Regions from separate parts of the Homo sapiens genome. Here all the other regions are reported to be linked to region 4. The links are microRNA targets in miRTarBase. Many come from high-throughput screens and were not tested one by one. Region 4 holds a microRNA gene; each other region holds the end of a gene's coding sequence.

What was found. Region 4 holds the annotated microRNA hsa-miR-6807-5p (GUGAGCCAGUGGAAUGGAGAGG, at 1,337-1,358, opposite strand). A microRNA usually pairs through its seed, bases 2 to 8, with sites in the 3' UTR of a target mRNA and lowers its output. Matches are read on the target gene's strand: a 7mer-m8 pairs with bases 2 to 8, a 7mer-A1 pairs with bases 2 to 7 and ends in A, and an 8mer does both.
Region 1: miRTarBase lists CKAP4 as a target of hsa-miR-6807-5p. The part of its 3' UTR that is shown has no 7-base or 8-base seed match.
Region 2: miRTarBase lists GTF2H3 as a target of hsa-miR-6807-5p. Seed matches in the 3' UTR shown: 7mer-m8 at 2,928-2,934 and 7mer-m8 at 2,636-2,642.
Region 3: miRTarBase lists F11R as a target of hsa-miR-6807-5p. Seed matches in the 3' UTR shown: 7mer-m8 at 3,212-3,218, 7mer-m8 at 1,767-1,773 and 7mer-m8 at 753-759.
Region 5: miRTarBase lists SLC35F6 as a target of hsa-miR-6807-5p. The part of its 3' UTR that is shown has no 7-base or 8-base seed match.
Region 6: the mRNA of DDX19B is a reported target of hsa-miR-6807-5p. The part of its 3' UTR that is shown has no 7-base or 8-base seed match.
Region 7: the mRNA of SLC16A10 is a reported target of hsa-miR-6807-5p. Seed matches in the 3' UTR shown: 7mer-m8 at 2,543-2,549 and 7mer-m8 at 3,858-3,864.

Annotation. Positions count from the first base shown.
Region 1 is chr12:106,235,676-106,240,128 of GRCh38, forward strand. It overlaps CKAP4 (cytoskeleton associated protein 4), which reads right to left. Exons shown (of 2, transcript NM_006825.4): 2 at 2,206-4,453. The coding sequence ends at 3,349. Among named protein-coding and RNA genes, the nearest start is that of CKAP4, 10 kb to the right of the region's middle.
Region 2 is chr12:123,659,854-123,664,306 of GRCh38, reverse strand. It overlaps GTF2H3 (general transcription factor IIH subunit 3), which reads right to left. Exons shown (of 13, transcript NM_001516.5): 11 at 4,377-4,453; 12 at 4,225-4,261; 13 at 1,703-4,141. The coding sequence ends at 4,072. Among named protein-coding and RNA genes, the nearest start is that of TCTN2, 9.0 kb to the left of the region's middle. RefSeq lists an enhancer at 3,770-4,453.
Region 3 is chr1:160,994,943-160,999,319 of GRCh38, forward strand. F11R (F11 receptor) reads right to left here. Exons shown (of 10, transcript NM_016946.6): 9 at 4,101-4,149; 10 at 269-3,964. The coding sequence ends at 3,929. Among named protein-coding and RNA genes, the nearest start is that of F11R, 24 kb to the right of the region's middle.
Region 4 is chr19:58,547,277-58,551,642 of GRCh38, reverse strand. It overlaps MIR6807 (microRNA 6807), which reads right to left and starts at 1,358; the gene lies at 1,267-1,358. It overlaps TRIM28 (tripartite motif containing 28), which reads right to left. Exons shown (of 17, transcript NM_005762.3): 4 at 4,132-4,267; 5 at 3,930-4,046; 6 at 3,737-3,851; 7 at 3,463-3,609; 8 at 3,235-3,349; 9 at 3,051-3,157; 10 at 2,867-2,903; 11 at 2,733-2,781; 12 at 2,403-2,655; 13 at 1,993-2,312; 14 at 1,783-1,906; 15 at 1,608-1,694; 16 at 1,359-1,496; 17 at 928-1,266. The coding sequence ends at 1,090. CHMP2A (charged multivesicular body protein 2A) reads left to right here. Exons shown (of 6, transcript NM_014453.4): 6 at 1-77.
Region 5 is chr2:26,778,012-26,782,459 of GRCh38, forward strand. It overlaps SLC35F6 (solute carrier family 35 member F6), which reads left to right. Exons shown (of 6, transcript NM_017877.4): 6 at 31-3,220. The coding sequence ends at 500. Among named protein-coding and RNA genes, the nearest start is that of CENPA, 5.8 kb to the right of the region's middle.
Region 6 is chr16:70,333,376-70,337,777 of GRCh38, forward strand. It overlaps DDX19B (DEAD-box helicase 19B), which reads left to right. Exons shown (of 12, transcript NM_007242.7): 12 at 146-1,930. The coding sequence ends at 207. It overlaps DDX19A-DT (DDX19A divergent transcript), which reads right to left. Exons shown (of 5, transcript NR_039997.1): 3 at 445-585. Among named protein-coding and RNA genes, the nearest start is that of DDX19A-DT, 11 kb to the right of the region's middle. RefSeq lists an enhancer at 1-404.
Region 7 is chr6:111,221,428-111,225,880 of GRCh38, forward strand. SLC16A10 (solute carrier family 16 member 10) reads left to right here. Exons shown (of 6, transcript NM_018593.5): 6 at 576-4,453. The coding sequence ends at 808. Among named protein-coding and RNA genes, the nearest start is that of SLC60A2-DT, 36 kb to the right of the region's middle.

The sequences.
Region 1 (4,453 bases), not on the chromosome of region 4:
ACATCATCTTCATCACCACCATCATCATCTCCATCTCCACCATCATCTCTATTATCAACACCATCACCATTCTAAGTGACTTGCCCAAGGCCACATGGTCAGTGGTGTAGTAGTCTCCTCACCAGGGTGCTGTCAGTCCTGCCTGAGAAGTTTCACTGCAGCCTCTTATCCTGGTGCTGGATCTGCAATTTAACCAACATGTTCAGTAATTTGTGTATATTGTTTGTTCAAAGGGCAAAACAACCTGTTTCCCGAAGCTTCCCATTACTCATGAAAGCATTCCAAGGGACTTCCCCCAGCCCTTCAAAAACCTGTTCTAACCACCTCTAGACCAACCATGGCACAATGGTCACTCCTTCCTCTTGGCCCAATACACCCAAGTATGGCACCTGTATTTCTAATACCTACCACTTTACATGACTGTCATTCCCACTGGGCTAGTCCTGTACATTTTAATTCACTGATACTTAGCAAAATGGCTGGCTATCAGCCCAATAAATGTTTATTGAATGAATGAACACTATATTGAATGAAGAAACAAGACTGAGCTGCATTATTTGGTGTAAGAACTCTAACTGCCCCACCATCAGAAATATGTGAATTCCTAATATATTCCTTTTATTTTCACCACTTGAATTTATATTTATCAGACACTTGTCAATATTTTCTTTTATAATATTAATGAGAATCTATTAAACCACTCCATAGTCAGAGATGAGCAACTGCAGAAATGACAGGAGAAACAGCAAGAACATACTCAATGCAACCAATTGGCCTGAAAAGGAAATGAATTTAATTTTTTCCATGCCTGCGACTTTATGCTGTTCCGCACCCTCCCCAAGTGGGTGAAAGTAGCCATTTAAAGCATACATGTCAATACTTAAGACTTTAAAATAAAAAGTAAAATGGTTTTGAAATAAAAATAGAAATTATTTACAGAGCCTGTCCTGATTTGCTAACTGCTTTGGAAAAAACTTCCAGCTCTGAGTTGTGAAGCTTTGAGGGACCCAGAGTGACTGACAGCAATTCAGAGATGAGGGGCCTTTCAGCCAGAAAGGGGGACATCAAGCCACAGGACCTCAGGTCCTAGCCACCCTCTACTCCCTAGGTGGGAAAGAAGAAATCTCTTGCAGCCTTGGGCTCTGGAACAGGACAGATATTCCACAGGCCAAATGGACCTGCACTGGTGTCAGTGGACGGTAGAGGATGCTGTCCCAGTTAGAGCAAGGATGAGGTCCAAAGCTTAGCCCTGCCACTTCGTAATGAATGACCTTGTATGAAGCTTCTCAGCCTGCTGTTCCTCTGTGAAATGGGAAATGATACTGCCTACCTCGGGGGACTGTAAGAAGGAATAACAGGTTATTATGCATGCTGAGCACAAGACCTGGCACACAGGTACTCAATAAACAGCATGTGGTTTTTATTGGGTGGAGGGTGGAAGGCAATCCAGAGAAGGAAACAAGCCCAGGTGTGCACTAGGGCTGAAGGTCACTCAGATGGTCTGAGACACTGGTTCTCAACCCTGACTGGACATTAAAATCAGAGAGGGAGCCTTTAAAATACCAGTGCTGGCCAGGCATGGCGGCTCACACCTGTAATCCCAGCACTTTGGGAGGTCGAGGCGGGCAGATCACGAGGTCAGGAGATTGAGACCATCCTGGCTAATACGGTGAAACCCTGTCTCTACTAAAAATACAAAAAATTAGCCGGGCGTGGTGGCAAGCGCCTGTAGTCCCAGCTACCCAGGAGGCTGAGGCAAGAGAATGGCCAGAACCCGGGAGGCGGAGCTTGCAGTGAGCCAAGATCCTGCTACTGCACTCCAGCCTGGGTGACAGAGCGAGACTCTGTCTCAAAAAAAAAAAAAAAAAAAACAGTGCCAGCCTCTTTATGCCTATTCAATCAGCATCTGTGCGGGCAGGGCCCAGGCATTTTTTAAAAGCTCCTAGGAAGATTCTAATAGGTAGTGAGGGTTGAGATCCTGTGCTTGAAGCTAACAGAGCTGGAGACAAGTAATCATTGAACACACTTGCTAACAGTCCATCAAAGGAGGTCCCCGGCCCAAGAGTGAGGCCATCTCGGTTTCAGAATTAAAAGAAAAAACAGCCTTAAAATAGTAAACTTACCTATTTGCTAATCGTTTATACCATGTGCTAATAAAACACATCATAATTACGAAATTCTCAGAATGTAACCACTCTGGAAAAGTCATAACAAAGCTCAAGTGTTTATTAAGAATTAAAAATACTGTAAATAAGCCATACAGTTCATTTCACAGTAAACTAAACAAAACTTTTTTTTTTTTTTTTTACTTTTCGGGTTTTTTTTTTTTTTTTTTTTTCAATTTTTTTTGGAAGGGCAAGACAGCCATTAAAGAACAATACAGCTCAGAGGGAAGGGAGATACAGCAAACAATTACACAAACGCAGTATGCACGCTCCTTGCCGACAGGGCTGCCCAGACGGCAAACCTCTTCATGGACATCATGTTAAAATAAAAGGACTTGGCCTGCATTCCCCAGGGAGACCCCCTATTCCACTGTAGACAGCTCTCCTCACGAATTTTTTGAAAGAACCCAAGGACTCCCCTTTCTGGTAGTCGAAACCTGTGCATTCCTTGGTGACCTCCGGAGAGAGAACATGGGCCGGCAGTGGGGACAGAGGGCACCGGGACTCTGCTGGGTGTAGTGCTTCACATTCAGAACCGCCTGGATGCTTTGCATAGTTACCTCTGATATCACAAGATGCGTCAGGAAGAGAAACGACACGCACACCATGAGGGAGGCAGCCCTCAAGCAGCGGATTCCTTTCAAAGAAAGACCCAGGGGCTTCTCCCCTCCTCATTCAGAGCTGACAGCTATGAGCTTTAACCGGTTCAAAGTGGAAGACAAGTGAGAGATATCTCATAAAAATTTCGGCCAGAACAAAAAAAAAAGTAAAATTAATTTTCCTTAAAGACAACTAGAAAGAAAAGGGTCCCCCCAACCCACCTTTTTTTTTTTTTTACTTGAAATCTGCCAGCCAGACAGGATTTCTGAGGTTAATCTGCTTCTGTTAATCCTCAATTTAAGCCTTTATCATTTTTCTCTGACTAGAGACATCCATGAAAAGCCACCTGTTATTCACAGGGGCTGCGCTTCAGGAAACCAACCAAATGCAGAAGCAGAGAACTTAAATATTGTAAATAAGTTAACTGGGCATGAAAATACAATGCCTTGGTGTTCAGGTGGTGACAACTGCTCTTTAAGAGGGGACAAGAAATTGGGGGGTAGGGGACACATGGGAAAAAACCACACATTTTTTGGTCATGAGAAATTGGACTTTAAATCCGCGCCCTGCACACGCAATTCATTTAGACCTTTTCGTGAATCTTCTCCACTTTCACAAACAACCTATCCAGATCATTCCTCAGGTCATCTAGTAAACCCTTGGCTGATTCCAGATTGTTCTCGTTGGTTTCTATTTTGACCGAGTATGCAACCAAACTGTCCACAGCAGTCCTGAGCATTTTCAAGTCCGCCTCCACTTGGCTGACTGAGGCTTTCAGGTTGTCTAGAGAAGAAAGTCTGTCCAGGAAGTCCTGAGGAGGCAGACGGGCGGCCTGGGCTTGGTCCTGACTGAGCAGCGTGTGCACCTGCTCCTGCACCTTCTGGAGTGATTCCACGGTGCTGGGGAGCTCGCCCACACTCCTCTTCAGCTCCTCCACGTCACCGTAGAGCACCAGCTGGGTCTCGCCCAGGCTCCTCACCGTGCTGGCCAGGCCATCCTGGTCTGCCTCTGAGGACCCGAGGCCTTCCAGGCGCCCCTGCAGGGCGGCCAGGCGCTGCTCGTGCTCCTGGCTCTTGGACAGGAGGGACTCCAGGCTCTCGGTCTGGCGCGCAGAAGCCACCTGCATGGAGAGCACCCCATCCTCCACGTGCTGGAGCCTGGAGTCCAGTCCCTGACTCTTTTGCTGGAGTGCCTCAAAGGCTTCCGAGTGTCTGAAGCCTCCGTCCTCCTTCGGCCCGTGGGAATCGGACTTCAGCTGGCGGAGCTCTTCCTCCAGTCTCCGGATCTCCTCCGGGAGGCGGGAGACGGACTCCTCAGACCTGAGAAGCTTCTCCGTGAGGGCCTGCAGGGCGAGCCGCTCCGTGTCGGCCGCCTCCTTGAAAGCCTGCTGCTCCTGCTTGAGGCTCACCAGCTCGCGGACCTCGGTGTAGATGTCAGACTCCATAGTCTGAAGGGTACTTCTCAGGGCCTCCATGTCCCACTCTCTGGACTTGGCTGAGGTCTGTATCTCCTTCACAGCTTCCTTTAAGGCTTTCAAATCCTGCTTGTTCCCCTCAGATTCTTCCAGGGAGGCAACCTTTGCCTTCATGTCATTGATCTCCTTCTGGCTCCTCTTCTGGACTTCTGTGAAGATGGCGATGTTGTCGTTGATGGATTTGGTGAGCTCCGTCAGCCGCTCCTCCACCGTG
Region 2 (4,453 bases), not on the chromosome of region 4:
CCGATGAACATTGATGCAAAATCCTCAACAAAACACCAGCAAACCAACTTCAACAACACATTAAAAAGATCATTCAGGCCGGGCATGGTGGCTCACACCTGTAATCCCAGCACTTTGGGAGGCCAAGGTGGGTGGATCACTTGAGGTCAGGAGTTCGAGACCAGCATGGCCAACATGGTGAAACCCCGTCTCTACTAATAATACAAAAAAATTAGCCGGGCATGGTGGCGCATACCTATAATCTCAGATACGCAGGAGGCTGAGGCAGGAGAATCGCTGGAACCCAGGTGGCAGAGGTTGCAGTGAACCGTGATCAGGCCACTGCACTCCAGCATGAGTGACAGAGCAAGACTCCATCTCAATACAAAAAAAAAACAAACCAAAAAAAAAACAGATAATTCAATCAGGTGTGGTGGCTCATGCCTGTAATCCCAGCACTTGTGGAGGCCAAAGCAGGTGGATCACCTGAGGTCAGGAGTTCAAGACCAGCCTGGCCAACATGGTGAAACCCAGTCTCTACTAAAAATCCAAAAAAATTAGCTGGGCATGGTGGCAGGCACCTGTAATCCCCGCTACTTGGGAGGCTGAGGCAGGGAAATCGTTTGAACCAGGAAGGCAGAGGTTGCAGTGAGCTGATATCACACCATTGCACACCAGCCTGGGTGACAAGAGCGAAACTCCATCTCGAAAAAAAAAAAAAAAAATCATTCATCATGACCCAGTAGGATTCATCCCAGGGATGCAAGGATGGTTCAACAGGATGGTTCAACATAGGCAACTCAATCAATGTGATACATCGTGTCAACCGAAGGAAGAACAAAAGCCATCTGATCATTTCAATGGATGCTCAAAAAGCATTTGATAAAATTCAACATCCTTTCATGATAAAAACCCTCAAAAAACTGGGCAAAGAAGGAACATACTTCAACACACACACACAAAAGCCACATATAACAGACCCACAGCTAGTATCGTACTGAACAGGAAAAAAACTGAAAACCGTTCCTCTGAAATCTGGAACATGGTAAGGATGCCCACTTTCACCACTGGTATTCAACATAGTGTTGAAAGTCCTAGCTAGAGCAATAAGTCCTGAGAAAGAGATAAAAGGTATTCAAATTAAAAAGGAAAAAGTAAAATTATCCTTGTTTGCAGATGATACGATCTTATATCCGAAAAAACCTAGACACCACCAAAAAACTATTAGAACTGATGAAATAAGTAAAGTGGCAGGATACAAAATCAACATACAAAAACCAGGAGCATTTATTTATTTAGAGACAGGGTCTCACTCTGTCACCCAGGCTGGAGTTCAGTGGCATGATCATGACTCATTGTAACCTGCGCCTCTTGGGCTCAAGCGATCCTCCCACCTTAGCCTCTGGAGTAGCTGGGACTACAGGCATGAACCACCTCACCTGGCTAATTTTTATATTTTTTTTAGAGACAGGGTTTTGCCATGCTGCCCGGGCTGGTCTTGAACTCCTAGGCTTAAGTGATCCTCCTGCCTCAGCCTCCCAAAGTGTTGGGATTACAGGCGTGAGCCACTGCACGCAGACCAAGATTTGAAATTAAAGTACTTCGGAGTTGAATAAAAAATTGTCTGGCATTTGACCAAATGCAGTTTAAAAGTACACATTTGAAGAAGAGTTGAATGAGCATGAGATAAACAATGAATGAAAGGAAATAATTCAACCAAATATGAAAATCAAATTATTTTATTGTAAAAATTTATATAAAATAACTCATAAGGGCAACAGTTAAAAACAAGTTAAACAGAACTAACCAAATATATAAGATATTTCAAATAAAAAAGTAATAATAAAAGCCTTGCTAGCTTGTTTGAAAGTATATATAATACTTTATTTCCTAGACTTAAAATTGTGATTTCCATTACACTTAATTAGTATACAAAATATTATTTTTAAAAGACAGGTTCTCAAACTCAAGGATTAACAAATATTTGCAAAGTGATCACCAAAGTCTTTGTATATTTGTTAACAAAAACACAAATCCAGAATATAAAATCTATCTGAAATTATCTAAGCCAACATCAAATTATTTAAATATGACTCAGCTTGTATAAAGAGAAAATTAAAATCTTCCTTACATACAAAGTTTTGTACACAATGGGTTTTATCAGTACAGACTTTTTTTTTTTTTTTTTTTTTGAGACAGAGTTTTGTTCTTGTCGCCCAGGCTGGAGTGCAATGGCGCAATCTTGATCTTGGCTCACTGCAACCTCCACCTCCTGGGTTCAAGCAATTCTCCTGCCTCAGTCTCCTGAGTAGCTGGGATTACAGGCACCTGCCACCACGCCCAGCTAATTTTTGTATTTTTAGTAGAGACAGGGTTTCACCATGTTTTCACCACGTTGGGCAGGATGGTCTCAAATTTCTGCCTCATGGGTTCAGTAGAGTAGTAATCCCAGCTACTTGGGAGGCTGAGGCAGGAGAATGGCGTGAACCCAGGAGACAGAGCTTGCAGAGAGCCGAGCTTGCACCACTGCACCCCAGCCTGGGCAACAGAGCGAGACTCTGTCTCACAAAACAAAACAAAACAGAAACCCAGCCTGATCACTCCTGACCTCGTGATCCACCCACCTTGGCCTCCCAAAGTGCTGGGATTACAGGCGTGAGCCAACGTGCCCGATCTTTTTTTTTTTTGATACAGAGTCTCGCTCTGTCACCCAGGCTGGAGTACAGAGGCGCTATCTTGGCTCACTGCAACCTCTGCCTCCTGGATTCAAGCAATTCTCTTGCCTCAGCCTCCCGAGTAGCTGGAACTACAGGCACCTGCTACTTCGCATGGCTAATTTTTCTATTTTTAGTAGAGACAGGGTTTCACCATACTGGCCAGGCTGATCTTGAACTCCTGACCTTGTGATCTGCCTGCCTCGGCCTCCCAAAGTGCTGGGATTGCAGGGGTGAGCCACCACGCCCGGCCTCGTCAGTAAACATTTTTAAAAAACAAACCAAACCAGCCACCATTCCTTAAACTCTTTGTACAAATATGTGCTAGAAGCTAAAAGGACTTTTAATAATTTCAAGATTACATAAAGAAATACATTTTTTGTTGTTGAAATTACAAATACTTTTGCTTTTGAACTTATAAACACTTTTGGGATTCAGTCCAAAGCTTCTAGAGAACAGTTTTAATAAATACATTTAAATTTTTAGTAGAGATGGGGTCTCACTTTGCTGCCCAGGCTGCTCTCGAACTCCTGGGCTCAAGCAATCCTCTGTCCTCAGCCTCCCAAAGTGCTGGGATTACAGGTGCAGTTTCAATATTAATGTGGATTTTTTTTCCTCATTAAAAAAGGAAAGAATTCTATCTGAAAACCATACTTAACATAGAGTCCATTTTCTCCAGTAAGTTCTCCCTCAAAACCAGTCATAAGCTTTCACATATAAGCTCTTCCCACAACTATTTTGAAGAAAATTTGCTTCTGTACACGTTCTCCTTACTCATTTAAAATGAGATTTTGTAGTTATTTGGTGACAAACTATTATTTAGATGACTTTGTCCAAATATGTACTGATATCAGACAAAAAGTAAATATCTGCAAATATCTGAGGCTGTCTCAATTTAGACAATAAGAATTTTATTCACATGACTACTGAAGTTAACTGTTGATTCAAATAAGATGTTCTATGTTGATTAATGCCATTACTCCACAAATAGTCCCTTTTTCCAAAGCTACGTTCAAATTTCGTATGGCATGCATTTCACAATGAGGACCCGGATTCAGGGAGTAGGTTAGAAAGCCTATGATGAGTCATGACAAGCTGACTTTGACTAATAGTCATCCCATTAAAAAAATGAAAGCCACAAACATGGACAGAAACCAGTCATAGAATATTTTAGGATATAATGCATAGAATGATTCCCTCAAACAAATCAGTCCTCCAGAAGCACAGGATGAAAAGGATGTTTGGGAAATATTTTCTGTAAGGTCACCATATTAAAAATTATCCTATACCTATCTTTATTTTTTTCAGTCTTCCCAACAAAGAATCTGCTATATAATTTCTATTAACAGCTCTAAAAGATGGGGAAAATATTTTATCCTCAGGCAGACACTTTCAGTTTCTTTTTCTTGGCTTTCAGCACTGGAGGCAGAGAAATTTTAAAGGCTGTCCTGAAATTACAGAGAGGAAAACATTTTTTAATGTTCTAGAGCTGTGAAGTATTAGCCACCCACACAATCTCAAAGATACTTACTCGCACGTAGTACAAATGGGGCTGAAATTGCAGAATACTGTAAATTAAAAAAAAAAAGAAACAATAGGGTGGCTGAAAAACAACACAGCTGAGAAACTGTTTTCCTGCCCCCCAACATAGAAAAAAAAGAAAAACTAGGTACATTAACTTACTTGACAAACACACAGAACAGACATAACCAATTTCAATGAGATTTCGATGACAGAAGCAAGCAGCCCTGTAGTCAACA
Region 3 (4,377 bases), not on the chromosome of region 4:
CTAAAACTATTAAAAAAAAAATTATCCGGGTGCAGTGGCAGGCGCCTGTAATCCCAGCTGCTCGGGAGGCTGAGGCAGGAGAATCGCTTGAACTCAGAGGGAGAAGTTGCAGTGAGCTGAGATCGCTCCACTGCACTCCAGCCTGGGTGATAGAGTAAGACTCAGTCTCAAAAAAAAAAAAAAAGAAAGAAAAGAAAAGAAAAAATGTTCCGTTTCATATCAGATTTTCATAGCTAGTACCAGAGAAGGGGTAATAAGCTGGAAAAGCTAAAGAATTGGATATTTTTTAATGCAAATTGTTGTTTTTCTTCATTTGTCTACTTTATTAAGCTGTCCTCAGGCCCCAAGAAACATACTGTCCCCTCATTTAGAAACAGACTAACTCCGTTTTCCTCCACTATCCCCTCCCCTGTCCTTGATCTGTAGATCCTGTTAAGACAGGAAAAACAGTGTTGGTCAAAGGGTACACGCTTTCAGTTACAAGATGAACAAGTTCTGAATACGTAAGATAGAACATGGGAGGTGATGTGGCCGGGTGCAGTGACTCACGCCTGTAATCCCAGCACTTTGGGAGGCCGAGGTGGGCGGATCATGAGGTCAAGGGATCGAGATCATCCTGGCCAACATGGTGAAACCCCGTCTCTACTAAAAATACAAAAATTAGCTGGGCATGGTGGCACACGCCTATAGTCCCAGCTACTTAGGAGGCTGAGGCAAGAGAATTGCTTGAACCCAGGAGGTGGAGGTTGCAGTGAGCCAAGGTTGTACCATTGCACTCCAGCCTGGCAACGGAGCAAGACTCCCTCACACACACACACACACACACACACAAAAATGGTGATGTGTTAATTGACCATGGCAATCATTACACAAATGTATGTGCATATCAAACCATGTTGTATACTTTGAAGAAAATAAAAAAACGACAGGAACAACAAACACATCCTTAACACTCAATCATTTTATCCCAGATTATGCTGAGTTCATGTCTCAGGGGAAACACCAAAATCCATGGAACTGCTCTCATTTTTTATCCCCTAAATGTCACTTTAACATAGGAAATGTCCATTGTGGGGTTATTTGCATTTAAACACAGGCCAATGAAAAAAGCTAAATTAAAACGTAATTATCAAGGTAATGGAAAGATATCCTAATCTCTTAATTAACAAGACTATCAGGAATATTTTGAATGTCCAATCACTCTAGGAGTCCCAATTCTCTTAAGGTAAGAACTTCAGGATTTAAACAAACTCAATGTGAAAATAAACATTTATTATAAAAATTAGTTTTGACATTTTAAAGTGAATGCAGACAAGGTGTTTTCCAGTTCAAAAGGTCCATTGTAAGCTAGAGAAGTAAATTCCAAGGCTGGCAATAACTGACTCATATTCTTCACAAGTGGCCTAGACAATAAGGAACCATTCACCTCAAATTCACAGAGCCATGAATCACCTCTGCTTCCCCATGACCTTTTCCATATCCTTCCTACTCTGTCTTCCAACCATGACACAGAACTGAAACATACTTTAAAAATCTCATCCTTGGCTAGGCACGGTGGCTCACATCTGTAATCCCATCACTTTGGGAGGCCAAGGCAGGCGGATCAAGAGGTCAGGAGTTTGAGACCAGCCCGACCAACATGGTGAAACCCTGTCTCTACTAAAAACACAAAAATTAGCCAGGCATGGTGGCACGCACCCGTAATCCCAGCTACTCAGGAGACTGAGGCAGGAGAATGGCTTGAACCCGGGAGGCGGAGGTTACAGTGAGCCAAGATCATACCACTGCACTCCAGCCTGGGTGACAGAGCGAGACTCCGTCTTTAAAAAAACAAAACAAAACAAAACAAAAAACAACAAACTCATCTTTACTGAACCATTTCATAAGCTCTACTTTATTTGTCTAGTTGGATTTCATTTCTTCTGGAAAATTTATTGTTTATTGGCATGTGACCCTTGACTGATGGCTTCATTAGCATTTTGTTTTTCTTTTTGGATCCTTAATAGAAAACTCAATTCTGTTAGGGATTTCCAAATAGGATAGGGCAAAGTCGCACTTAGTATATCCTCCACAGAAAGAAAGAAGCAAAATCAAGCCAAGAGGGCCCTTTACTTGTCCTCTTGCTAAGTTAATAAATAGACTGGTGGATGGTGGTAGATGGAGAAACAAAAATGTAAGGGCAGAGAAGGGTCCAAATGGGGAGGAAGAAAGCAATGACAGCCAGGCTGTCCGGCTCATTCCTGTTCATTCACATGCAGACCACCCATGATCTGGTCTTCAAATTTCTTCTGAATTCCACCCCACTAAATACAGTAGCAGTTACTACTTTAAACTACTACTAAAGCACTTGTTCTCCAAATGACCTGAGAAATCCCCTTGCCTCAGCTCTGGGACAGTAGTTCCTACAGCTGTAGGGAGGTCTGTTAATGCACCTGGCTGAACAGGAGGTACAAGAGTAAGTACCTTCTCTCACTTGGTGGAACAGGCCAAGGAGATCCCCCAAGTACAGCATCAGCTTCACCCTGTGTACCTTCCTCCAGCAAAGGAAGGCCTGGCCACAAGAGGGCTCTGGAATGAAGGCCTGAAATTCAGAAGCTCTGCCTTGAGATAAGAACCAGGAAGGGGCAGGACCAGGCACTGGGAACCAGCCCCAGGTTGCTGGGAAGCAAGGCTTTGAGGCATTTTCCTGTTGTACAAAGGAGCCTAGGAACCCTCAAAGACCTTTTCCCCTACTTACTTCCCACAAAAAAGAGCCTTGACAAACCAAGGTTTTATTTCCAGCAACATTCAGCTGATACAAACACATAGAAATACAATCTCACCAAAGAGCTAAGAAGCCCTCCAACACACGCCCAATTTCAGCATACAGCTAAGACTACACAACACACACACAAGCTCAACAAAGAGCTAAGACCACTACACACATCTCCACAGCACCACAGGCACATCTCAAAAGGGTCTGTCCAGTAGTTCCAGCCAAGGGAAGGGTGATGGCCTAAGCCACCAGCTCCAGCTTTCTTTTCTTTCTTTTTTTTTTTGAGCTGGAGTTTTGCTCTTGTTGCCAGGCTCCTGAGCAGCTGGGATTACAGGCATGCACCACTATGCCTGGCTAACTTTGTATTTTTAGTAGGGTTTCTCCATGTTGGTCAGGCTGATCTTGAACTCCTGACCTCAGGTGATCCGCCTGCCTCAGCCTCTGGGATTATAGGCGTGAGCCACTGCGCCCAGCCTCCAGTTTTCTTTTCTTTAGAGCAGCGGTTTTAAATCCTTTTGGCTTCAAGTTCTCTGAAAATTTACTATGCTCTCCACAACAAGAGCTCCCATTTTCCACAGACACAGTCAATGTCAGTCAGCTTGTATTCAGGAGGACAGGGCAGAGGGATCCCAGTGGCACTTCCCATGGGAAGACAGAAGAGAGTGGGCCCCAGAGATGGAAGGACCCCAGTGTCATCACCAAACAACCATTTCAGCCGCTCTAGCCTCTAATTCCCGCTCTAGAACAGCTGGCCCTGGTCGTCAGTACACAAGGAAAGAGCCCAGAACCAAGCTCAAGATACCTATTCAAAGATCCCTGCCAGCCAGGTGGGCAGTTGAGTGCAGATTCCTGCGACCCCCGCCATTTTTGCTGTCTACTTAGAAGGGAAGTCAATGGCATACCCAGGATTCCTTCCTGATCCCTCAAAGAAATGGGGAATAAACACTTTAAACAAGTTCCAGGCCACTCAGCAGTGGTAGGAAAGGGAGGGAGGGCATGAAGGAGGATGGGGCACATAGCTGACATTATTAAAAACACATCCGAAGAAGTAGGGGGCCCTGTGGGGTGTAGAAGACAAATAAGGCATCCTGTGAAACTACAGACATCAGGGGCCAGAGTCCGGTAGCACCTGAGTAAGGCAAATGCAGATGATAGGCGGTGAGCCGACCAGGCTCACACCAGGAATGACGAGGTCTGTTTGAATTCTCCCTGCAGAAATAAAACATCCAGTCAACTCTCAATAGTCTTCTTTAGCTGATAATCCCCAAAACACATAAACATGGGCTAGAAATCTCCTCACTCCAGCCCCAGGTGGCCCACCCCTGCCCAGGGGAGGCATACTCACTTCACTTCGGGCACTAGGCTGGCTGTAAATCACCTTCTTACTCGAAGTCCTGTGAACAAGCCAGAAGACAGAGACACTCAGCCACCTAGGTGCTTATTAACCTCCCCTTGCCAACTTTAAAGGCCAGAAGCGAGAATGCTACAGAAGCACAGAGTGCGCAGCAGACAGGTATGGGTGGGGTAACAGGACAGACCCAGGGCCAAGGCCACAGAGAAAGGGCTGGATATCCAAATGCCTTCCCTCCAAACTGGTTGCTTCTGCCTTCAACCCATTCCCC
Region 4 (4,366 bases):
CTGCCACTCCGAGATAACCAGTGGATGCCCAGGATCTTTTACCACAACCCCTCTGTAATAAAAGAGATTTGACACTAGTCTCCAGGCCCATGTGACTTTTGGCCTGATGTGGGACCAGACTGGGGTCCCTGGGAGGATGGGCATCACTAAGGCAAGAGGCACTTGGTACTAAGCTAAGGGTGGGGGTTTGGGGCAGGGGTGAACAAGCAAAGTCCACCTGGGATTTTCAGGAGCTGGGAGCTTCAGGTGAGCTGTGGGCCCTTCTCCATCACCTCTCCCAAGATACTGGACTGCCCAAACACCCTGGTAGGATCTTGAGAGTCCAGGCCTCATCTGCCAGGCTGTAGTGTCCAACACTGTTTGGTCCAGTGATGGTTTAATGACAACACTCAAGGACAGTCCAGACCAACCAATAGAGGCAAGGGGGTGGCCTTGGGATTCACACAGGCTCGACTGTAGAGTAACTAAATCATAACACAGAGATGAATGATAATGTTAAGTGGACTCAGCAAAGGGAGACAGGGAAAAAAACCACATCTGGAAGGTCTCAGTTCACTGTGGGACCTTCTGAAGATGAGAAACAGCTACAGCACCAAAATTTAGGAAGCATTCAGTAGAGTGGCTGTGCTACACCTGGGGCTAACCCTGCCTACACAGGGATGTAGGTCACACCTACCCAGTATCCCACAGGGTACCCAACAAGCCTCTAGTGTGTACATCCTTTGCCCTGGGTGACCCTCCCCATACCCAGAAAGGGCAAGGAGGCAGTCTTCCCCACTCCCTAGGCATCCATACACATGGGCTTCGATAGGTGGGGGACAAGACCCCCCTCCCTTGTGCCACCAGTGCTTGATAAGGCTGACTAGTAGATACAGTCAATAAACCAGGCCCCAGGACCACAGTCCCCCAACCAGCCAACGCCTGAGGAACTGGTGAAGTTTTTATTAAATCCACAGAAGTAAAAACCATATCGTGAGGAACTGGGGGATGGGGCCACCAGGGAGTGGGAGTCAGGCCACCAGGGGAGTGGGGATGGGGTGACAGGACAGAGAACAGAGCCAGGCTGGGCTGGCCATGGGGGCTCCAGCCTCAGGGGCCATCACCAGGGCCACCAGACAGCTCCTGGGAACTCAGGCCAGCACCAGGCAGGCTCATCGGCGGGGGCTCCACCAGCACAGCAGAGAACTTGGTGTCACCGAAGGCCTCGTTCATGCGCGTCTCGAAGAAGCGCTGCAGGCCGATGATGGACTGCACGTCTGCCTTGTCCTGGGCCAAGCAGGAATGCAGTGGATGAATGGGTCCTAGTTCTTTCCTTCACATCTCCCCCTGCCCACAGCCTCTCCATTCCACTGGCTCACCTCAGTTAACTTGTTGAATTGCTTGAACATGCGGCCCACATCCTGGGCAAACTCCTGTGGGGAGCTGTAGGGAGGTGACAACTTCTCCTGGAGGCGGGCACGGATCAGGGTCAGATCCAGGGTGCCACCGGGCTGGTCCTGCAGGCAGAGATCACACATACACACACAAAGACACACATATACATGCACAGGTTGAGGGCGAGACCCAGCAGCCACCACCCCCTTCCCCTTTCCCATCCTAGGACTCACCAGGGAGAAGGTGGAGTCGGTAGCCAGCTGATGCAGGGGGCGGCAGGGTTCGTGACAGAATAGGGCCAGCAGTACACGCTCACATTTCTACAAACATTGTAAGGGATGTCACAGCTCTGGGCAGCACCTATAAAGCCTCTCTGGGCAACCCCACCTAAGTAACCCCAGCCCTCACCCGCTGGTTGGCTGGTGAGAGCTTGGCCACCACGCCAGTGCTGTCTGCACCATCCAGGCTGAGGCTGCCATCCTCCTCCTTCAGGTCAGGGAGCACATGGCAGAGTGAGCAGCTCCACTCCTCCCTAGGGTGAAGAAAATAAGGGTCTGCACATGATCCTGTCCAGACAGCCCAACACCCAGACTTGACCCCCACCAGCCTCACACTCACCCTGGTACATCCTGCAGGGCCGGCAGGTGACAGTCCAGGTGGAAACAAAACTCACACTGGTTGCACATAACCAGATCGCCTGGCTTCTGGCAGACACGGCAAATGGTGGCACTGTCATCCAGGGTTCCCGGGCCACCACCTGGGGCTGAGGTACCCTCAGGAGCCACCACCTCCAGCCCTGAGCTGGTGCTGCCACTAGGTGAGGCCAGGCGGGGACCCTCAGCACCAGGACCCTCCGCAAGAGCCATAAGCACAGGTTTGGTCTCAGGGCCCTCAGTGGCAGTAGGAGGGGCTCCAATGGCAGCCTCCGTCTCCTCCTCCTGCAAGGTGGTGATGAGGGGTGTTCAACAGGGTCCAGACCTGGACTACAGGCTTCATCCTACAGCTATAGTTCCTTGGGACAGGCTTACCTTGACAATGGCCATGCCAGCCAGGGGTGGGGCACCAGGGGTTCCTGCAGGCGCAGTCCCTGGCTGGCCGGTAGCTGCAGCGGCAGCGCCACGTTCAATAACAATAAGGTTGTAGTCCTCAGTGGTACTGCCTGGGAAGACCTTGAAGACGGGTGGCTGGCTGTCAGCTGTGAGGTCCAGGTCCAGGCGTTCAAGGCTCACTCGTGGCACCTTGCGCATAAGGCCGCTCACCTCGCCCTCACCTGAGCGGGACCTGTAGATGCAGCAACCTGGCATGAGTACACCCCCACCCTCCATCCACCTCACCCCCAGGGGAGGTGCCATACTTACCGTTTCACACCTGACACATGGGGCTCTGCACTTGAGTAGGGATCATCTCCTTAGAAAATGGAGAAAGAAGACTGGCAGGTTGGGGTAGAAACAGCACTGGGGCCCTTCCCCACCCACTAGGCAGACCCACTCACCTGACCCAAAGCCATAGCCTTCCTGCACCTCCATGGGCTGTGAACAAAGCAGAACCCTCTGCCTCAGTGGGACAGGAACCCTACTGGACCCCATTCCCTGCCCACCCCCCCTGCCTGGGTCCTCTCTCCTGCTACTGGACCCCATTCCCTGCCCACCCCTTCCTGGGTCCTCTCTCCTGCTCACCTGGCTGCTGCCAGAGCCCTGCTTGCTCAGGGGCCCTGGGGCTCTTGGAGGGGCCATGGGTGCAGGGCCTGTTGAGTTAGTGCCAGGACGCTCTGCCACAATCTTGCCTGCAAAAAGAAGAGAGAAACGTAAGTAGGTGCAGCACGTGGGGTAATAACAGAGTGAGGTAAAGCTGGGGACCCACCAAAGGCCTCGGCACTCTTGGTCCAGGCATTGAGGTCCCACTGAAACTTCATCTCGCCATGTGGCTCCACGGGATCCACAATCATCTTGAGGGCCCGGTGCAGCTGGAAGTAGATCTGGTTGGGAGTGAAAGGGAGGAAAGAATGAGCACACCAACAACAAATAGGGATTTGAGGTATTGGGAACCACCTGCCTGGAACCCACCAGCCAGGAGCCCACCAGTACACACCAACTTCTTAGAAAGCAAAAGGGCTGTGTTGTTGTCACTCTCCAGAGCCCAAGAGGCAAAGCGCAGAATGTGCTCCTGGTGCTTCTGGATCTTGGTCATGGTCCAGTGCTGCCGCTCCAGGCGCTCCTGCTGCCCCTCAGTCACCTTCTGCAGATAGAAGGTGTATGAGGTAAGCAGAGAAGGCAGAAGAATACTAGGATCACTCCTCACCCCAGACAGCATCATCAATCAGCAGAGGGGGCTCAGGGACCCTTCTCACCGGCACAAGGCTTACCTGGGCATCATTGACCAGCACACGGCCCCGCTTATTCAGCTCCTTCATGATCTGCAGGATGGCCATCTTGACATCCACTTGCACACGCTTCTGTACGTCAGACACCTGGCGGATTCTAGGGGACACAGCAGGTCAGGCTAGGTAGGGTCTTGCTGCCCTGGGCCACCCCCACAGCCCCAGAACCCACACTTACGAGCTGCGAACCTCCTTGGTGCTCTTCTGCAATGTTGCATGTTTGTCCCCAAGGCGCTTCACCAGTGAGGCCAGGAGCTTGCGCTGGTTCCTCACTGCATCCTCTAAGAACTGGTACCTGAGAGCAGACAGATGTGTTCCTGAGCACTAAGCTACGGAAGGGGTGGCACCCACCCACCCAACCACTATGCCTTGGGACTCACTGGTGGTCCTTGTGGGCATTGAGCTGGCAGTCTCGGCAGGTGAGAGTATCACAGCTCTCACAAAACAGCACAAGGGGTTCATGCTTGTGTACGTTGCAATAGACAGTACGTTCACCATCCCGAGACTTGGCTGGCCCTGGGGAGTGGGAATCATAAGGCTGGACCTTGCCCTTCACCACCCCCAACTCAGGAAGCAGAATGAGTTGGGGCCTCATTTCCGGCCTGTTCTGTGACA
Region 5 (4,448 bases), not on the chromosome of region 4:
GAGAGTGTAACTGTTTCCTCTACTCCCCAGGCCTCTTTGGCTTTGTGATCCTCTCCCTGCTGCTGGTGCCCATGTACTACATCCCCGCCGGCTCCTTCAGCGGAAACCCTCGTGGGACACTGGAGGATGCATTGGACGCCTTCTGCCAGGTGGGCCAGCAGCCGCTCATTGCCGTGGCACTGCTGGGCAACATCAGCAGCATTGCCTTCTTCAACTTCGCAGGCATCAGCGTCACCAAGGAACTGAGCGCCACCACCCGCATGGTGTTGGACAGCTTGCGCACCGTTGTCATCTGGGCACTGAGCCTGGCACTGGGCTGGGAGGCCTTCCATGCACTGCAGATCCTTGGCTTCCTCATACTCCTTATAGGCACTGCCCTCTACAATGGGCTACACCGTCCGCTGCTGGGCCGCCTGTCCAGGGGCCGGCCCCTGGCAGAGGAGAGCGAGCAGGAGAGACTGCTGGGTGGCACCCGCACTCCCATCAATGATGCCAGCTGAGGTTCCCTGGAGGCTTCTACTGCCACCCGGGTGCTCCTTCTCCCTGAGACTGAGGCCACACAGGCTGGTGGGCCCCGAATGCCCTATCCCCAAGGCCTCACCCTGTCCCCTCCCTGCAGAACCCCCAGGGCAGCTGCTGCCACAGAAGATAACAACACCCAAGTCCTCTTTTTCTCACTACCACCTGCAGGGTGGTGTTACCCAGCCCCCACAAGCCTGAGTGCAGTGGCAGACCTCAGCTCTCTGGACCCCTCCTACAGCACTAGAGCTAAATCATGAAGTTGAATTGTAGGAATTTACCACCGTAGTGTATCTGAATCATAAACTAGATTATCATAGTTATCTAGTTTATGAGTCATAAGCTAGATTTGATTCTTCAAAGAAGAAAAGTCAGTGAGCAAATTTAAACCAGAACTAAGCATTATATTTTCTTTTTTTTTTTTTGAGACAGAGTCTCGCTCTGTCGCCCAGGCTGGAGTGCAGTGGCACGATCTCGGCGGCTCACTACAACCTCTGCCTCCCAGGTTCAAATGATTCTCCTGCCTCAGCCTCCCGAGTAGCTGGGATTACAGGTGCATAACACACCTGGGTAACTTTTATAGAGATGGGGTTTCACCATGTTGGCCAGGCTGGTCTCAAACTCCTGACCTCAGGTGATCTGCCTGCCTCGGCCTCCCAAAGTGCTGGGATTACAGGCGTGAGACACCACACCCAGCCATAACTAAGCATTATGTTTTCTAAAACTTCTAAGATCCTCCCTAAACCCGTCTGGAGACATGGGTTTTAGCCCAGACTCTGCCTCAAACTCATTGTAGCTCCCAGCACATTACCCAGTTGCTCTGGGCCTTGGTGTTATGCTCTGGGAAGTAGATGTTGATGCTGTGGCCTTAGTGCCTTCTGGCCCCAGCATTCCATGGGCCTGTGATCTTGACCAACCTGAGAAAACAGTAACAGCCCATCCACTGGAAATACCCCTCTGCCCACAGCACCACCCTTCTGTGCTGTTTTTTTTGTTGTTTGTTTGTTTCTTCTTTTTGAGACAGAGTCTTGCTCTGTTGCCACGCTGGAGTGCAGTGGTGTGATCTCGGCTCACTGCAACCTCCCGCTCCCAGGTTCAAGCAAGTCCCCTGAGTAGCTGGGACTACAGGCGTGTGCCACCACATCCGGCTAATTTTTTGCATTCTTTAATAGAGACGGGGTTTTGCCATGTTGGCCAGGATGGTCTCAATCTCCTGACCTCATGATCCACCTGCCTCAGCCTCCCAAAGTGCTGGGGTTACAGGCATGAGCCACCACGCCCAGCCTTTTTTTTTTTTTTTTTTTTTTCTTGAGAGACAGGGTCTTGCTCTGTCACCCAGGCACAGCTTACTGCAGCCTTGAACTCCTGGGATCAATCAGTCCTCCTGCCTCAGCCTCCCGAGTAGCTAAGACTAACAGGTATGTACCACCATGCCTGGTTTATTGTTTTATTTTTTTGGCAGAGATGGGTCTCACTGTGTTGCCCAGGCTGATCTCAAACTCCTGGCCTCAAGCGATCCTCCCATCTCAGCCTCCCAAAGTGCTGGGATTACAGACCTGAGCCACCACACCTGGGCAACAGAGTGAAACCTGTCCCTGTTTTCCTGCTCTTACTCTCACCTCTGAGGCCTCCTCTGCCTGGAAGAGATTACAGGGAAATTCCAGGCAGCCCTTGTCAATTGTTTTTATGAATTCTTTACCTGTTCCTTTTAAAGACAAGGAAACTGAGGCCCAAAGTTCTAAGTTGTTTGGCAAATGGAGTCTCCTACCCTCAGCTCCTGCAAGGACCTGGGGGACCCCCAGGTCCAGCAGCCACATGATTCTGCAGCAGACAGGGACCTAGAGCACATCTGGATCTCAGCCCCACCCCTGGCAACCTGCCTGCCTAGAGAACTCCCAAGATGACAGACTAAGTAGGATTCTGCCATTTAGAATAATTCTGGTATCCTGGGCGTTGCGTTAAGTTGCTTAACTTTCATTCTGTCTTACGATAGTCTTCAGAGGTGGGAACAGATGAAGAAACCATGCCCCAGAGAAGGTTAAGTGACTTCCTCTTTATGGAGCCAGTGTTCCAACCTAGGTTTGCCTGATACCAGACCTGTGGCCCCACCTCCCATGCAGGTCTCTGTGGGGTCTTTGGGATGGATCTCCTAGGGCTGGGCTGGAAGCCTCATGTACTGTTGTCTTCTAGGTAACCACCCTGAAGAGAAGGGGTGGCATCAGGAACCGCAGGGAACCAAGCAGCCTTTGGTCCAGTGCTGCTCCTTGGAACAGTTGAGTGTGGCCTCAAACCATTCTCCTGGGTAGCTCAGTCATAAAACACCGAATGCCTGCCTCAAAATAGCCTCTGAGGGAAGGGAGCTGTTGACAAGTGAAGCCCTCAGGTTGTGTGGGATTCCAGCAGGTTATTACAGCTTGTGGGGGGAGGGAGGGTCCATTCCACCAGCTTTGAATCCCAGGGTCCCCTCAGCTTCACTGGGCCACAGTGTCTGTCCCAGGAAGAAGCAAATGGACAGTGAGGATGATGGAGAGACTACAGCTGCCTTGTCTAAAACCTGGGATCTTAAAAGTGTTATTTTGGCTTTTATTTTTTAAAAAAAGAAAAGGAAAATTGGCAATTGTATTAATCCATTCTCGAATTGCTGTAAAGAAATACCTGAGACTGGGTAATTTAATTTATAAAGAAAAGAGGTTTAATTGGCTCACAGTTCTGCAGGCTATACAGGAAGCATAGTAGCTTCTGCTTCTGGGGAGGCCTCAGGAAACTTACAATCATAGTGGAAAGGCAAAGGGGAAGCAGACACATCTTATGTGGCCAGAGTAGGAGCAAGGGGGCGCAGGAGGAGGTGCCACACACGTTTTAAACACCCAGATCTCACAAGAACACTCAAGAGGACAGTACCAAGTGGAATGCTGTTAAACCATTCATGAGAAATGCACCCCCATGATCCAGTCACCTCCCACTAGGCCCCACCTCCAAGATTGGGGATTACATTTCAATATGAGATTTGGGTGGGGACACACATCCAAACTATATCAGCAGTACTGGACATTTTTCATGAGAGAGAAGGGGCACAAGAGGATGTCTGGAGCTAGCCTCTAGAATGTTGGTGTGGAAAATCTCTCCAATGTTTGAAAAGCATACCAATTACCTAGTCCTCCATTCATTGTTCAAATGAAGAAACCCAAAAAGCAGAAGTAACTTCCCAAGGGTCACACAGTCAGTTAACAGGCAAAAGCCAGATGTCCTGGTTCTCAATCCTCGCCTGTCCCATTCTGCCACAGATACTGCAGCCAGAGGCCAGGCATGGTGGCTCACGCCTGTAATCCCAGCACTTTGGGAGGCCGAGGTGGGTGGTTCACCTGAGGTCAGAAGTTCGAGACCAGCCTGGCCAGCATGGCAAAACCCTGTCTCTAGTAAACATACAAAAATTAGCTGGGCATGGTGGCACAAGCCTGTAATCTCAGCTACTCAGGAGGCTGAGGCAGGAGAATCACTTGAACCCGGGAGGCAGAGTTTGCAGTGAGCCAAGATCACGCCACTGCACTCCAGCCTGGGCAACAGTGAGACTCAGTCTCAAAAAAGAAAAAAAAGCTTAAAAATAAAGATATAAACCGGGTGCGGTGGCTCACGCCTGTAATCCCAGCACTTTGGGAGGCTGAGGTGGGTGGATCACGAGGTCAGGAGATCGAGACCATCCTGGCTAACACGGTGAAACCCCGTCTCTACTAAAAGTACAAAAAATTAGCCGGGCATGGTGGCGGGGGCCTGTAGTCCCAGCTACTTGGGAGGCTGAGGCAGGAGAATGGTGTGAACCTGGGAGGCGGAGCTTGCAGTGAGCCGAGATCGGGCCACTGCACTCTAGCCTGGGCGACAGAGTGAGACTCCGTCTCAAAAAAAAAAAAAAAAAAAAAAAGATATAAAGAAAA
Region 6 (4,402 bases), not on the chromosome of region 4:
GCTCTGACTGTTGCTGTCAGTGACTAGGGGCCCTGCTGCCCCCTGCTTAGGCACCCGGAGCCTTTGGGGCTGAATGAATGATTGCTGTGGCCCAAGATGGGGCACATTCCTGGGCAGGGTAGAGACCTGTGTATCTTTCCCCCAGATAAGAAGATAGAAAGATTGGACACAGATGATTTGGACGAGATTGAGAAAATAGCCAACTGAGAAGCTCCACCAGCCACTGATGCCAGCCCTGGCACTGCCCCTGCACAGGAGACAAGTGCGTTCAGGGCACAGGCCCCGACATCACCCCAAGGACAACGGCACAAGTAGAGAGAAACTACCTACCTCACTTCAAATTATGTTTGGACTTGACAAAAATGTATGCAAATGATGGGGGATGGTAGAAAAAAATTATTTACACAACCTTGGAAGATTAGGCATGAATACACAGAGATTTACCTTTTGGAAGTTTCATCTTTTAATTTGGCCAGTGTTTCCTTCATGCTAATCTAGATGCTGTGGCTGATTACTTGCCCAGGATCTCCTGTGGCAGCCTCTGCTTGTTCTCTGGCTTGGAGTGGATGGGGCAGCCTCCAGCTCCTGTGGAAGTAATGGAATAGTGGTGGAAAGGGAACACAGAGAGGGAGGCTTCCAGTAAGATAGGTGTGTAAGCCCAGCCATCATGTTTGGAATGGCATGAGGCAGCAGAGGAGGCCTGAGAGCTGCTGCTTTGGACTTGGGGGTGGGACAGCTCATCTGAGTATTGCCAGCCCCCTGTCCTAGTGCCCACAGCAGAAGGGAATTTGTTAAATAAGCATGGACCAAAATGCCAACCTCTCGGTTGTGTATATGGGTTTGTGTCACAGGACTGTGACCTGTTCTCGGTGGGTGCAGTCTGTGTAGAGTGCACATCTGATTATTGGTGGGTCCTGTGCCTGTGCTTAAGCAAGTCCTGTGGAGAAGTCATCATGGAGAATTAGTGGTGGCCCTAGCGTGCCACAAAACCTGGTCTCATGAGCATTTGCAACATCCCTTTTACATCCTTAATATCCCCTTACCCCACAGTAGCCCCAAACAAATGTGATCTGAGGTTTAGATCCTCAGTGAAAATTGTGGTTTCAAGTCTTCATGGCCAGCCTCAAGGCAGTTCTAGATGTGATCAGCAGTAGTCACAAATTCTTGTTTTGTCTCCACACCCAGAAGGCAAGTTTTGTCAGAGCTGGGGAATAATTTCAGATATTTGACATCTTGATTATAAAGGGCTTCTGAACATCTGTGTTTACTGCCTTTGGAATACAAACAGGTGCAACTGAGGGACTAGCTACACTACCACCATTTATCTGTCCAAGGCAAGAGTATCACCAAGGCCTTTGCTCCAGCCTTACTTGGCATCTTTGCGCAAGATAGTCAGAGCAAACAATAGTAATGGACACTTCTCACACCTGGCCAAGGCTGTTGGTACCCACGAAATGACAGCAAAGATGAGAGGAAACTGAATTGCAAGAGCAATATGAAACCCCAACCAAGAGGAGTACTCTGCAGTTCTTTGGCTTTGGTATAGAGTGGCCACTTTCTCTAGGACCTGGAAGAAGAGTTTGATGGCTAAGAACGATTGTGATCCTAGGTCTTCTTTGTACGCATCTCCGTATTTAGGCCAGATCTGCCTCCTGGGAAGGGAAGGGGCCAATGTCAGCCTCCAGGTGATTTCTTTAATCTGACATTACAAAGAGACCAACAGACTGCCAATTCTACCACATTCCCCTGGTGGGTACTCGACTATGTAGTTTTCTCTATGCTTCTGGTCAACTCTGACACATCTTGGAATTCTTGTAATAAGAAAAGAAATTTTTATACTTTTTTCTCCTTCCCTGAGTCCTGTGGACCAACCCTGAAATACTAAAAACAAGGGCAATAATTAAAGAAGTATAGACTCTTTAGTAGGCCACAGGCAGAGCAGACTCCCACCTTCTCAAGCACATACAACCTCTCTACTGGTGTAGCCCCAAGTGTGAGAAGGAAAGTGGGAAGCGGGGTGCTGCAGACTCTTTGACAGCAGGAGGAATGGGAATCTGGTAGAAGTATAGGTCAACAGTTCTTTTTTTTTTTTTTTGGAAACGGAGTCTCACTCTGTTGCCCAGGCTGGAGTGCCGTGGCACGACCTCGGCTCACTGTAACCTCTGCCTCCCAGGTTCAAGCGATTCTCCTGCCTCGGCCTCCTAGGACTACAGGTGCACGCCACCGCACCCAGCTAATTTTTGTATTTTTAGTAGAGATGGGGGTTTCACCATGTTGGCCAGGCTGGTCTTGAACTCCTGACCTCAAGTGATCCACCCACCTTGGCCTCCCAAAGTGCCAGGATTACAGGCGTGAGCCACCGCGCCCAGCCAACAGTTATTAATCAGGGGTCTTGGACCTCTAAGAATTCACTGGATGGGTTTCATGGAGTCTACGAAGTATATATACAGTAGTTTGAGTTTAAATGTATTTTCCTGGCTGGGTGCAGTGGCTCATGCCTGTAATACCAGCACTTTGGTAGGCCTAGGTGGGCGGATCACCTGAGATCGGGAGTTCGAGACCAGCCTGACCCACATGAAGAAACCCTATCTCTATTAAAAATACAAAATTAGCTGGGCTTGGTGGTGCATGCCTATAATCCCAGTTACTTTGGAAGGCCGAACCTGGGAGGTGGAGGTTGCGGTGAGCTGAGATTGCGCTGTTGCACTCCAGCCTGGGCAACGAGAGCAAAACTGTCTCAAAAAACAAAACAAAACAAAAAGGCCCGGCTCAATGACTCACACCTGTAATCCCAGCACTTTGGGAGGCTGAGGCGGGCAGATCACCTGAGGTCAGGAGATCAAGACCAGCCTGGCTAACACAGTGAAACCCCGTCTCTACTAAAAATACAAAAAATTAGCCGGGCGTGGTGGCAGGCGCCTGTATTCCCAGCTACTTGGGAGGCTCAGGCAGGAGAATGGCCAGAACCCGGGAGGCGGAGCTTGCAGTGAGCTGAGATCGCGCCACTGCACTCCAGCCTGGGCAACAGAGCGAGACTCCGTCTCAAACAACAACAACAACAACAAAATATATTTTCCTGGGGAGACTCCCAAAAGATTATATGTCTTTTAAAAAGGTAAGTCCCACTGTTGTGGATGGTTCTGGAATGTTACCCCAGCGTTACTACAGCTCATATTTCTTCCTTATTCCTTCCATATTCATTCCTGCCAGTGCCTAGCTCCCAGGGCCATAGCTGCGTCTGTGACCTTGTGTAGCCTAGAGCCAACAGTGATATAAATCTGCATTGAGCTTGGTGAGCTTTGGTCCCTAGGGATTCTTTTACTGATTTTAGTAAGTACCTATATATGAAATGATAGCTGGGTGGGTTGACTCATGCCTGTAATCCCAGCACTTTGGGAGGCTGAGGCAGGAGGACTGCTTGAGCCCAAGAGTTCAAGACCAGCCTAGGTAACAAAGTGAGACCTTGTCTCCACAAAATAATTTTTTTTTAAATTAGCCAGGCATAGTAGTTCATGCCTGGAGTCCCAGCTACTGGGGAGGCTGAGGCAGGCGGATTGCCTGAGCCCAGGAGTTCAAGGCTGCAGTGAGTTACGATTGTGCCGTTGCACTCCAGCCTGGGTGACAGAGCAAGAAAGACTCTGACTCAAAAAAAAGAGAAAAAAACACTGGGTGCAGTGGCTCATGCCTGTAATCCCAGCACTTTGGGATGCCAAGGCGGGCGAATCACCTGAGGTCAGGAGTTTGAGACCAGCCTGGCCAACATGGTGAAACTCTATCTCTACTAAAAATACAAAAATTAGCTGGGTGTGGTGGTGCATGCCTGTAATCCCAGCTACTAGGAAGGCTGAGGCAGGAGAGTTGCTTGAACCTGGGAGGCAAGAGGTTGCAGTGAGCCGAGATCTCGCCACTGCACTCCAGCCTGGGCGACAGAGTGAGACTCCGTCTCAAAAAAAAAAAAAGAAAAAAGAAATGATAAACTGCTCTAGAACAGAGAAACTTGGGAAAAGGAATGTTTGGCCCAATGGAAAATTCTGGATATATTCATTATCTATAAATAATGCATTTTATTATTTTTCTTGAGTGTCATTCATTGGCTGTATGCATAAGAACTAATTGTTGATATATTCTTTTAATTGAAGATTAACCTGAATTGAGGATTAACATGAAGATTAATTAATAATAATTCAGGTTAATTGAACTTTAATTATGAAGTTTTCATATTACCAAGAAATCATTAATGAGTATAAGAAGGAAAGAGCTGGGTGCAGAGTGTCACGCCTATAATCCCAGCTACTTGGGAGGCTGAGGCAGGAGGATCACTGGAAGCCAGGAGTTCCAGATCATTCTGGGCAAACAGCGATATCTTGTTTCTTAAAAAGTTTAAAAAAGAAAATTAAGCCAG
Region 7 (4,453 bases), not on the chromosome of region 4:
TTCATAAAAAACAAATACACCAAAGAGTAGTTTGAAAGCTGGGCATGGTGGCTCATGCCTGTAATCTCAGCATTTTGGGAGGCTGAGGTGGGAGGATTGCTTTAGCCTAGGAGCTTGAGACCAGCCTGGGTAATGTGACAAAACCCCATCTCTACAAAAAATATAAAAATTAGCCAGGCATGGTAGCATGCACCTGTAGTCCCAGCTACTCAAGAGGCTGAGCTGGGAGGATCAATTGAGCTTGGGAAGTCAAGGCCTGCATGAGCCATGATTATGCTACCGCACTCCAGCCTGGGTGACACAGTGAGACCCTGTCTCAAAAAAAAAAAAACGTCTACCTTTCTATCTTTTCAAGTAATGTCTTGGTATGAAAATCCAGAGGACTGTACTTTATGACAACGTTAAAGATATGAGATCTTTTTCTTCCTATCAAAAAGGGTTTATATTTCAGATCTGTTTCCTAAAAAAAAAAAAAAGTCTGATGTCTGAGATGTCTGAATCAGTCCTGTGGCTGATCTAGACCCCCTACAGAGCCACACTTGTTCTCCCTTGGTGACAGCTTTTTCCCTTCTCAGGGTTACTTCGTGACAAACTGGGCTCCTATGATGTGGCATTCTACCTCGCTGGAGTCCCTCCCCTTATTGGAGGTGCTGTGCTTTGTTTTATCCCGTGGATCCATAGTAAGAAGCAAAGAGAGATCAGTAAAACCACTGGAAAAGAAAAGATGGAGAAAATGTTGGAAAACCAGAACTCTCTGCTGTCAAGTTCATCTGGAATGTTCAAGAAAGAATCTGACTCTATTATTTAATATCTTACATACCTCCACCAGACTGGACTTGCTTTTTGAATTTTAAGCAAGTTTCCTTTCCTTTTATACAAATTGCAAATTTCATATTTTTTTAATCACATCCTAGGAATAGCACAATAATTGGGAAATAGAACCCTTATCACTAGAAGAACCATTTTCTGCCACTAAATATCTCTGATGTTTCCATGAGTCTGAGGGCAGAGACTCTGGTATATGAAAACGTCTGAAAGTCACATATTGTGAAAATTTGAAGCTATCTCAGTAAAAAGCAGCTTTGGAAACTGTGAATGATCTTTAGCTTGTACAAATGTTTAAAAATACCTCAGGCTATACTGAAAGGGTTGCAGTTTGGTTAGGAGTGGAAATATTTTGTTTGTTAATGATGTCTTCAGTTCTGGTACCTCTGTTTTACTTTCTTATGCTCTTTGGAAACTTTTTGCAAAATTTAAGCCTGGGTTCTAGATAATACCAGATCTACCTAAACCTCAAGTCTATGTTAAAGTTGCTTTCCTGCTGTTAAATAAGCTATGATATTAAGATATTCTGACTTGCTCCAGTGTCAAGGGACCTTCTGGGAGCAGGTGCTAACATAGTGTTCAGAATCAATATGTGAGATGAAAAGGATCCCCTCCAGGAGGATCCTGAGCTGTTCAGAAATCATTTAAGTTTACAGCGTTGTTCCCTTTGCGTTTGCAGTGCGTTTTACTCAAGTAGCCAGAAACACCCCACGTTTCTGAATTTGTTTAAACTGTAACAATAAAGTAAAATAGAATGCATGAAAGATATTCTGGCGATTGTAACTTAGAATTTTTCTGACTTCTGGATTTGTTGGCACTAGAACCTGATATTTAAAGTCTTACTGAGCAGCTATCAAGTGGCAGTTACAGGCACAAATTGGTGGAGGCTGGAGGATGGGGAGGGGAGCAAAACCCTTTATATTTGTGAAGAAAATATCTGTAGCTGATAGAAATAATTGCTTAAATTGGTTTATGAAATTAATGAGTCTGAAAAGGTTAAAAGCACTTATAAAAAGAACCAAGTCCTACATTTCCAGAACTTTCTGGCAAAAATTTGCACTCATATTATTTATCCTATGAACATTCCCATTGTTTTTTTTTGCTATTTATATACAGATTATCATAAGAAAGCTCTCAGTTTGAGGACCCAAAATAAAACCAAAGTCATGCCATGACCCATACTCATTTACAAAAACAAGAACACTTTCCTCTATCCCTAAAATTATGCTTTAGTACTTGAGGCCTTTAAAAGTTAGTGCTTTTGATTGTGAAGACATTCAGCAACTTACTTTGTCATACATGCAGTTGCACCTTACCACTTCTAATAGTGTCATATTTCATATTCAGGGGACTTAGATAATTTGCCTGTGGATGGTTCTTTTGCAGGAAAAAAAATCTACATTTTGACCATACTACCCTTTCATGTCCTTATTATAAGCTTTTAGAAAATGATTTCATTCAGTCATGTCCAGTTATATAAAACGTTACTTTCTCATTTTTGAGAAGTTCAACAAAACATACTACTAAGACCAATCATCAAACCCACTATTATAAATGTTAATTTTGGCTGGGTAAGGTGGCTTGCGCCTATAATCCCAGCACTTTGGGAGGCTGAGGAGGGAAGATTGCTTGAGCCCAGGAGTTTGAGACCAGCCTGGGCAACATAGCAAGATCCTGTCTCTACTAAAAATAAAAAAAAAAATTAGGCCAAGCATAGTGGCTCATGCCTGTAATCCTAGCACTTTGGTAGTCCAAGGCAGGGGGATCACTTGAGCCCAGAAGTTCAAGACCAGCTTGGGTAACATAATGAGACCCTGTGTCTACAAAAAATTTAAAAATTAGCCAGGCATGATGGTGCCCACCTGTAGCCCCAGCTACTCAGAGGCTGAGGTAGTGGAAGGATTGCTTGAGCCTTGAGATGGAGGCTGCAGTGAGCTATGCCACTGTACTCTAGCCTGTTCAACTGAGCAGAACCCTGTCTGTAAAAGAAAATCAAAAACAAAAAATAAATGTTAAATTTTGTTTTAAGTTTTAGCACAGACTCCCCTCAAAACACCTTCTCCCCAATTTTACAGAAAGTAATTTAAAAATGAAAACTTTACTCTGTAAAGACCTCTACAGTGTTTTTCTTTTCAAAATTTGGCTGATTTTAGGAAAAAAGTGATCATCTGAAACTAAAAGAAATTGCTTGGTTAGTTTCCATATTAAAACAGCAGTGACAAGTATATATAACTTAGATCTCAGCATATGTGTTTGTATATTAAACTTCACATATGTAGTTTTCAGTTTAATGGAATGAATCAAACTGGATCTATAACACTGAAAAAGTTCTATTGTAATAGACTCATACGGAGAATACTCTGCTATAATAATATAAAATTAAGAAGAAAAAGTATAAACGTAAGATGCTAAATTCCATAAATGCATATTTAGTACTATGTTTTTTGTGGGAAAAGTTCTAAAAGTTTAAAATGCACAAAGAAAATGAAAAATACTAATATAAAAATTTGTGCTTTAATCTAGTCAAACTAAATCCTTTCTAATTTCTGAATGAAGTGTTACTGCTGCAATAAAGTGACCTGATAAGCCTAAATTTTTTGTGTTCAATCCAGACACTTTTCTGAGAGTCTGAAAAGAATACAGAGTCAGAACTCTGTTTTTATCTCCTCATCCTGTTTTTGATAAGACTCAGAAAATTCTCAAATTCGAAAGGTTCTGGCATTTGAGGCCAAAAAAAGCATGAAAGGGAGTAACATTCCTTTTTATAGATACTCTAGATTGGATACTATTGTAACAGATGGCCAAGAAACTTCCAGAAACATTTTGGTTAAATTTTATTGCAATGGATATTGCTGGGATCCATCCATTTAAGCAGTAATATACCACCCAGATTATTGATACTTTATGCAAGATGTGTTCATCTCTTTGATCATATTTACAATGCTTACTCCATAGCCCTGCTACAAGACTTAAAATTTCCACTGAAAATTGCATAGTTCTTGTATTAAGATTCAAATTCTGGCTGGGCGCAGTGGCTCACGCTTGTAATCCCAGCACTTTGGGAGGCTGAGGCAGGCGGATTGCCTGAGCTCAGGAGTTCGCAACCAGCCTGGGAAACACGGTGAAGCTCCATCTCTACTAAAATACAAAAAAATTAGCCAGGCGTGTCGGCATGCACCTGTAGTCCCAGCTACTCGGGAAGCTGAGGCAGGAGAAGAATCCAGGAGGCAGAGGTTGCAGTGAGGCGAGATTGCGCCACTGCACTCCAGCCTGGGCGACAGAGCGAGACTCCATCTCAAAAAAAAAAAAAAAAAGTAAAAGTACACACAGTTTAAAAGTAAACATGTTTACTTCGGATAATTCTAATCCTTTTAGCTGCATTTAAGAATATTTTAATTTATACGAATGTTACTTGAAATTGGCCTATGTCCAGATGACTTTTGATGTTAAATCAATGGAAAACTGAATAGAAAATATGACACGAGATCGGGGAGGGGGAAGGCAACCTATAGCATGGGTGGCTCTGAGGAGTTCCTGCTGGTGCACTTTCATGCCCTTTCTTATGTACCTTTTGTCTTACTCTTCTTACATTATTCTTATCCTCATCATTTTTTCATTTCCCTTTACT